2 linked regions of the Homo sapiens genome follow. The protein of the gene in region 2 binds, or shares a complex with, the protein of the main gene of each other region. Each region holds a gene or a part of one and is shown on either strand. Other genes may lie near its edges.

Region 1 (3,748 bases), on a different chromosome or scaffold from region 2:
TTACCCTTCTAGACTTCACCAAGAAATCATACTAAGTAAGAGAATTGGCCACCTTCTCTTTGGCTTTTAACTGGCTTCTGAAAAGTAGCTGATTATAGGGCCAGTAAGCTCCTTTTACCAGTATTAAAGTAATTCATTTGCTGTTATACTTTGAGAAAAGTATTTTTATGAATTTTTTATAAAATTCTCAGAAAATTCTCATTATAGAAGTAATGAAGCTTATAAGTAATTCAGACAGAAATAGCATAACTTGGAAGTTTTCCATAATCCGTGGGGGAATATATCTATATTCCATAGATATAATTGCTATTACTAGTTTAGTGTCTGGTTATTTTTCAAAACCCCAACTGTACCAGTGTTCTTTTTTTTACATCATTCTAAAATGAGCATAAGATAAAATATTTGAATCTTGGATATATCACTTTAAACAAAAATTAGTGGCTAAGTCTACCCAAAGTAGAGTCCTAGTGCACTGGTAGCAGTTTTTGTGCCTTCTTGCAATACGTTTCACCTGGCTTGGGAAGAAATGCCGATGATTAAGCTTCCAGTTATTTTGGACAGAATTTTTTGTTTGAGTCTTTTAAAGTTCTTTTCAGGGAACCAAATCAATTTGGAAATAAAGAGGGGAAAAATCAAGTAAGCTCTGTAAAGTTACTTTGTTTCTGCAGTCAGGTTTTTCAGAGTCCCATATTTTGAAAATTTTCTTTGGGGAGGGGTTGTTAAGATATATTGAACTATTACTACTGTTGCAAAGAATTGATGTGTTGTGCTCATAGAGGAAATTAGTGAGGTAAATGGTCAGTCAATTTTCAGGCATCACACTTTTCTAATTCCCTTTTAGGAGAAAAGTAATGCTGGTGCTTCCTAGTACAAGATTAGTGGAAACAGCTATTTCTTATACTGGAGTTTTGCAAACAGCATGTTTAAATTGTGCTTACTCAGCCATTTAGCAGTCAATATTTTACAGATTGTTTAAGATTCCCTTTCAGCCAGTTTTTATCTCACACTTAAGGTAGGGTTTCTTTTTTTCAGGTTCTCAGGAATTCTTCCGCCAAAGGTGAATTCTGCAGGTACACATAATTGCAACAGAACTTAACACAAATTTTGCCGCAGAATTCGAGAGGCCCCTGCTTCTAAGTTTATGTAGCTAAATGAATTCTTAGTTTTGCACATCTTTTTTAAAAATGCAACCTAAAGGTTTCTCAACATTGTGTTATTAAATGGAAAATACCTTGCCCCCAAATTTTATATGCAAACTCCAAAACACCAATACCATTCCTAAGGCAGAAGGACTAGTTAGTTATTTTATTATAGCATTCAACCTGACAAGTTTTATAACTGGAGAGAGAACACAGACAGAAGTATTTATCAGATTAAGTTGTTTATATTAATCTCAGAACTAGCTGTTTCCTGGCCTAGGTTATGGTTTTTTCCCCCATTCTTTTGGACTCATTTATGTGCTTAGCTACATAAACTCAAAAGTCGGATTAAAATAGCTGTATTTTTGTGTAAACTGTTCATACCTGTAAGGCCGTTCTTTATAAGTGTGCAATTAGTGAATATGAATACTTTATTCCACAGAAGAAGACGTTCGTCAGCATCCTTGTCTGGGAGTAGCTCATCATCCTCTTCATCTCGTTCACGGTCACCACCAAAGAAGCCTCCCAAGAGGACATCCAGCCCCCCTCGGAAAACTCGTAGGTTATCTCCTTCAGCAAGTCCTCCAAGGCGAAGGCACAGGCCATCACCTCCTGCAACTCCACCACCCAAAACTCGGCATTCCCCTACACCCCAGCAGTCAAACCGTACAAGAAAAAGTCGTGTTTCTGTGTCTCCAGGGAGAACTTCAGGTAAAGGTAAAAATCAAACACATATGAAACATGGTCTCTCTTTCTTTGGCTACAAAGCGTAGTCAGTTATTGCCCCCTGCTCACTCTCAAAGTATGAAATAGCTAGATAATATTTGTATCTAATACTCTCTGTAGGTTTACTTATAAGCCTACCTCTTTCCTGCTTTAAAATCTTGGGGCTTTTTTATGTGTAAAAGGGTTTTGTTTTTAGCAATGCCCTGTGGCATTGCGCAGGTGGAGAAATCTTTTACCAGCCGTGGGCTGTTTGAGTTGGGGTAACATATCAAAGTTTGCGTTGGCATGATAAGGGATCATTTTATTACTATGAGACCAGTTAACTTTTTTTTCTCCTGAAGATTTTTGGTTTGATATCTTAAATAAGAGGACTTCATATTCTCTTTTAGTTCTTTCTTGGTCGCATTGCGCTCCCAAGCAAAGGACATGGTGTCCTCTTAAAAGCTGATTTGTTTTTTTAATTTAGGTTCTAGGCAGGGTTCTTCTGAGTGTTGTCCTTGCTTTATTCTGCAGATTGATTTCTGAGGAATTTATGATCTGTGAACCTGCCAGGCAAGTAGAATGCTGTGTTAGTCTGAGTGAAGGTTGTGGTCTATTGGGGTTTGTTCTGTGAGCATTAAATACGCATGGAAAAAACTGTAGTGTCCATTTGAACCAGGCTCTCTGGAGCTTAGGGCTGGAATGATATACAGCCTAAAAGGTGAGTAGTAAGGGATGGGGAGGATCTTAAAAGCTGCTAAAGCAATTGAGTTTTAAGGAGCAATCTGTAGGTTAACACACGCTGGGGTTATTATGATCATATTGAAAATTTCAGGTTAGAGCCAGGTGTGGTGGCATGAGCCTGTGGTCCCAGCTACTCAGAAGGCTAAGGCAGGAAGATCACTTGATCCCAGAAGTTCAAGGCTGGCCTCAGCCCCATAGCGAGATCCTGACTCTTAAAAAAAGAGAGAGAAAAAATTTCAGGTTAGAAACAAAGAAATGGGGATGGGCAAAATTTTCATTATACATTTTAATGAGCTTGATGAGACCAGCATTGCTAATTATTCACCCTGTTGCCTTATCTCCCCACTCCCCAAGGCTGCAATGTGGTGATACCTAGAAAGGCAAATTTTGCTTTCCTTTTTTGTATCTGTGACAATGAGGCATAGATAAGCTGACAGAGTGAAAGGGTGACCAGCAGATTATGATAGTCTGTAAAAAGTAATGTTTTCTGAATTGTGACATTTTTATTGTAGTGATAGGTTCATTAAATAAGACATGGCCACTTTTGTTGGCCCCTTAGAGAAGCAGCTAGTGAAAGTAGAGAAGCCTGTAACTGTTCCAGGTTCAGTCCTCAGTTTGAGAGAGGGGCTTCGGGATCACTGTTTTCATAACCTCATGTACCATACTGCTTTTCAGCATTGGGAAAATTTCAGTCCATTTTCAGTTACCATGTCCAAATCTGATGCCCATGGCCCTGGCCTATTTTGTCTTTTCCTGTAAAGTTTGTACTTCTGAATATTTATTCTTTGTCTGGAGCCACAAAGCTCTCCAGGGAAAAAAACAAGTGTTTTTACCTGTTACTTTGCAAAAACACATCAAGTGATGATTTTTTTCTATTTATATCATATAGCCTAAGAGTTGCAAAAGTACCTGAACAGAGGGACCAATCCTTGTTAAAATAGGTTGATTGTTAAGAATTATTAGGTACTTTTAAAAAGCATCTGCACAGATGCTAATTTCTTGTGTTTTGGCATATACTTTTTGCAAACAAGACAAGAGTGGATATGTACATAGGAAAGAAGTAAGCCATGGTGAAAATAAGTATTTCTGTGGGTTTTGGGACAGGGCTTCCGTGTTCAAACAACCTACCCAAAGAGAGGCACTACAGGCAGTGTAGTCAG
Region 2 (3,748 bases):
GTGGGCACTGCATTGCTTGAAAAAGGAATTTTTGTTTGTTCTCAAAATTTTGTTTGCTTCAAACTATTTCCCACGGCCTAGATCTAAACTCCTGCAAGCTCTGGTGCCACTGAACTCTCTAAACTCTTTTTGTGCCATTCTCCACTTCACTGCAACGATCCTCCCACATCAGCCTTCCGTCTGGCTCCTTCCTGTTTTAAGGCCTTTGCCCATGCTGTGTCCCGGCTAAAATGCCTTTCTCATGATGGCCAAAACTGAAGTAACCCCCACCTTCCACTGCTGTCTCTCATCACCCCATTTACTTCCTTCTGAGCATCATCTTTTTTGTTTGCTAACCACCTGTCCCCCCTACTAGAATGTAAGCTCCTGAGGGGCAAAGACCTTTCCCTAAGCTGTTCACCATACTCCAGCATTTAGAGCAGTAGCTTGCATATACGGTACACGCGCAATAAATATCTACCCAGTGAATAACTCAATAGGTCTTAAGATCATAACAACTACAGAAGCCATAAGTTACAGACTGCAAGCCATCTCTGCTTCTCTTGATATGAAAACACTAAATATGAGTTATTTTTGTTTTTGAGACAGATTCTCGTTTTGTCACCCAGGCTGGAGTACAGTGGCCCAATCCCAGCTCACTGCAGCCTTGACCTCCCAGGCTTAAGCAATCCTCCCACCTCAGCCTCCTGAGTAGCTGGGACACCACGCCAGACTAATTTTTTTTTTTTTTTTTTTAAAGCAGAGATGGGGTTTTGTCATGTTGCCCAGGCTGGTCTTGAACTCCGGAACTCAAGTGATCTCCCTGCTTCGGCCTCACAAAGTGCTGAGATTAAAGGTGTGAGCCACCTCACCCGCCTGAAATTGCTTTTTTTTTTGAGACAGAGTCTCACTGTTGCCCAGGCTGGGGTGCGGTGGTGCCATCTTGGCTCACTACAACCTCTGCCTACCGGGTTCAAGCGATTCTCCTGCCTCAGCCTCCCAAGTAGCTGGGATTACAGGCGCCCACCACCATGCCCGGCTAATTTTTGTATTTTTAGTTAGAGATGGGGTTTCACCATGTTGGCCAGGCTGATCTTGAACTCCTGACCTCAGGTGATCCGCCCACCTCAGCCTCCCAAAGTGCTGGTGCTGGTATTACAGGTGTGTGCCACCGCGCCCGGCTACAAAACTGCTCTTTTTAAAACATATTTTTTTGAGACATGGTCTCACTCTGTCGCCCAGGCTGGAGTGCAGTAGCACAATCTCAGCTCACTTCGGCCTCTGCCTCCCAGACTCAAGCAATACCTCCTGCTTCAGTCTCCAGAGTAGCTGGGCCTACAGGTGCACACCACTGTGTGCGGCTTTTTTTTTTTTTTTTTTTTTTTTGAGACGGGGTCTCACTCTTGTCCCCGAGGCTGTGGTGCAGTGGCACGATCTCAGCTCACTGCAACATTTGCCTCCTGGGTTCAAGCTTCTCCTGCCTCAGGCTCACTAGTAGCTGGGATTACAGGCACTCTCCACCACGTCTAGCTAATTTTTGTACGAGACGGGGTTTCGCCATGTGGGCCAGGCTGGTCTCGAACTCATGACCTCAGGTGATCCGCCCGCCTTAGCTTCCCAAACTGCTGGGATTACAGGTGTGAGCCACCACGCCCGGCCCCAAGGACTCACTTCTAATTCACTTATCTCACCCTGGCCCATTTAGGCATCTAGGGAACGGGCCCCGCCCTTACCAATAGCAAACTCCACCAGGGTCTCATTCTCCTCCGACAGCGAATCGAGAAATAAATCCAGGACCTGCAGCTGCCGCAGATACTCGTAGTTGCTGGGGTCATAAGCGAAGTTGGCGAGGTTGGCGAGGACTTGCTCCTTGGCGTCTGCAACGGGAAAGCGGCACTGAAGCCAGGTCCGGGCGGCGGTCACAGCGGACCCTGCCACCTGATCCCACCGTGGCTCTCACCTTGGCTTTGGGTCTCCTGGAATTCCGTGACCAGCGCCTGCAGGTATCCCAGCCGCCCGACGTGGGGGTCCACCTTCGGCTTCTGGGCCATGGCCGCGGTGACGGAGGACCCCCAGGGACGGGCGGGAGGGTGGGAAAGGTGCAGGGGGAAAGCCGAGCGAGACCCTCACCCGCTCTCCACCTGTCTGGAGAGGGAAGAGGGGGTCGGCAAATGGGTTTCTTTCCTGGGTTCAGATTCTGCAGTAATTTGCAGCTGGAAATGGGATATGGGAGATGGGACGGGGTCTCAGAATCCTGTAGGAGTTGCGTTTGAAAATCGAAATTGGGGCGCGGGAGACAGGGAACCGTCTACTGGTTGGGGCTCGCGGAGGGGGCACTGGCGCACCGTCCCCGGCTCCTGGGCTCGGTTCCGGGCTCCCGGCGGAAGCCGCGCTGTCCCTACCCCCGAAGGGGCGGGGCCGTCGCCGAACTCCTTGGCGCGCGTGCGCGGCGCGCTTCTGGTTTTCTGGATGCCGAAGCTCTTTAGCCTGTGCTGGAACCAGCGGCGAGCGGCTTCGCTGAGGCAGGTGCAGGCGTGGGTGGGTGTACTGCGAGGAGCAGCCTGGCCTCCCGTATCCCATGTCCAGATGCAAATTACTGCAAAATCTGAACGCAAGAAAGAAACCCACTTGCCGCCCCCGCCAACAGATGGGCGAGTGAGGGCCTCGCTCGGCTTTCCCGCCCCACCTTTCCCACTCTCCCGCCGGTCCCCCGGGGTCCTCCGCCGTCCCGACATGGCCCAGAAGCCGAAAATGAGACACCCATGTCGGGTGGCTGGAATTCCGCCAGGAGCAACTCAGGAGCGCAGCAGAGTCTGGCAGCACCCATGTTGGAGGACGTCGAGGCAGAAGCACCTCCAGGGTCCCCACGGCTGGCGGGGGCGCGGCCCATCCTCCTTGACCAGGACGCCCCTTTGGAGCGCGGGCGTCAGCTCCTTACGCCCCCCATCAGTCCTTTGCCCCTTTTGCAAAAAGCCTAGCGACCCCGACCCGCCCTCCATCCCAGCCCCGAGGTGGGTCCGCCACCTCTGGACAGAAATCAAAGGGTACTGGGTCATGTCCTGGTGCTTTTTGTCAGCCGGGTGGATGGCGCGCGCCCGGGGCAGCACGGGGGAGCCCGAGGAGGAGCCTTGATTGTGGCGCTTTCGGGGCTTTCTGGATGCTGAAGCCCTTCGGCCGATTCCTTCTCGGAGATTATCAGGAAGCGGGTGTGTGATAGATTGCTCGTGGTTACAGGAAACAAAGCACCAGGGAAGGAGGTGGTCTAGCCACACTCCCATCGCATTTGACAACGTAGGGGTAGAGGTGGCTTAGGCTGTGAGTGTCCTGAGAGTGCAAAAGTTGTTAATCTAAATGGAGTCACTTGTGTTAAAAAACAGAACAAAAAAACCCGGACACAGCCCAAGAAACCCATGACAAGAGGGTTCTCGTGCATAAATACCTGATAATGAAAACTATCACAAAGACTCTGCAAAAACCACAACCTTGCACAAAGGGCGTCACAACCTTGCACAAAACATACTTTTGAATGGCCATCTGCCCAGCAACCGCTTGTCCAACCTTGAGCGGTCACCCTTGTTATTAATCCTTCTACCTAAGGATAAATATTTCAAAACAATTATGTAATCCTATTTTTTCCCTTAAAGCCTGTCTTCCTTTACCTCCCTGAATACCCATATAGTTTACTATGGCATGGATACTACCATTGCAATGCCCTATGCCCAAATAGATATCATTTTCTTTGAGAGAGCCTCTCTGTTATTTAGGCTGA

Evidence for each region. Proteins that work in one complex are often made in the same cells at the same time.
Region 1: ARMC7 (region 2) and SRRM1 share a complex: the UniProt entries of both Homo sapiens proteins name them as parts of the minor spliceosome.

The regions. Positions count from the first base shown.
Region 1 is NC_000001.11:24,653,274-24,657,021, forward strand, and holds part of SRRM1 (serine/arginine repetitive matrix protein 1), read left to right. Parts: intron 1-1,032; coding exon of another isoform or gene 1,033-1,070; intron 1,071-1,581; coding exon 1,582-1,856; intron 1,857-2,378; coding exon of another isoform or gene 2,379-2,390; exon of another isoform or gene 2,391-2,417; intron 2,418-3,748. UniProt on the Homo sapiens protein: Part of pre- and post-splicing multiprotein mRNP complexes. As a component of the minor spliceosome, involved in the splicing of U12-type introns in pre-mRNAs. Involved in numerous pre-mRNA processing events.
Region 2 is NC_000017.11:75,108,571-75,112,318, reverse strand, and holds the start of ARMC7 (armadillo repeat-containing protein 7), read right to left. Parts: upstream 2,170-3,748; 5' UTR 2,031-2,169; coding exon 1,940-2,030; intron 1,857-1,939; coding exon 1,713-1,856; intron 1-1,712. Other genes in the region: SLC16A5 (monocarboxylate transporter 6), read right to left, coding at 2,170-2,584. UniProt on the Homo sapiens protein: As a component of the minor spliceosome, involved in the splicing of U12-type introns in pre-mRNAs.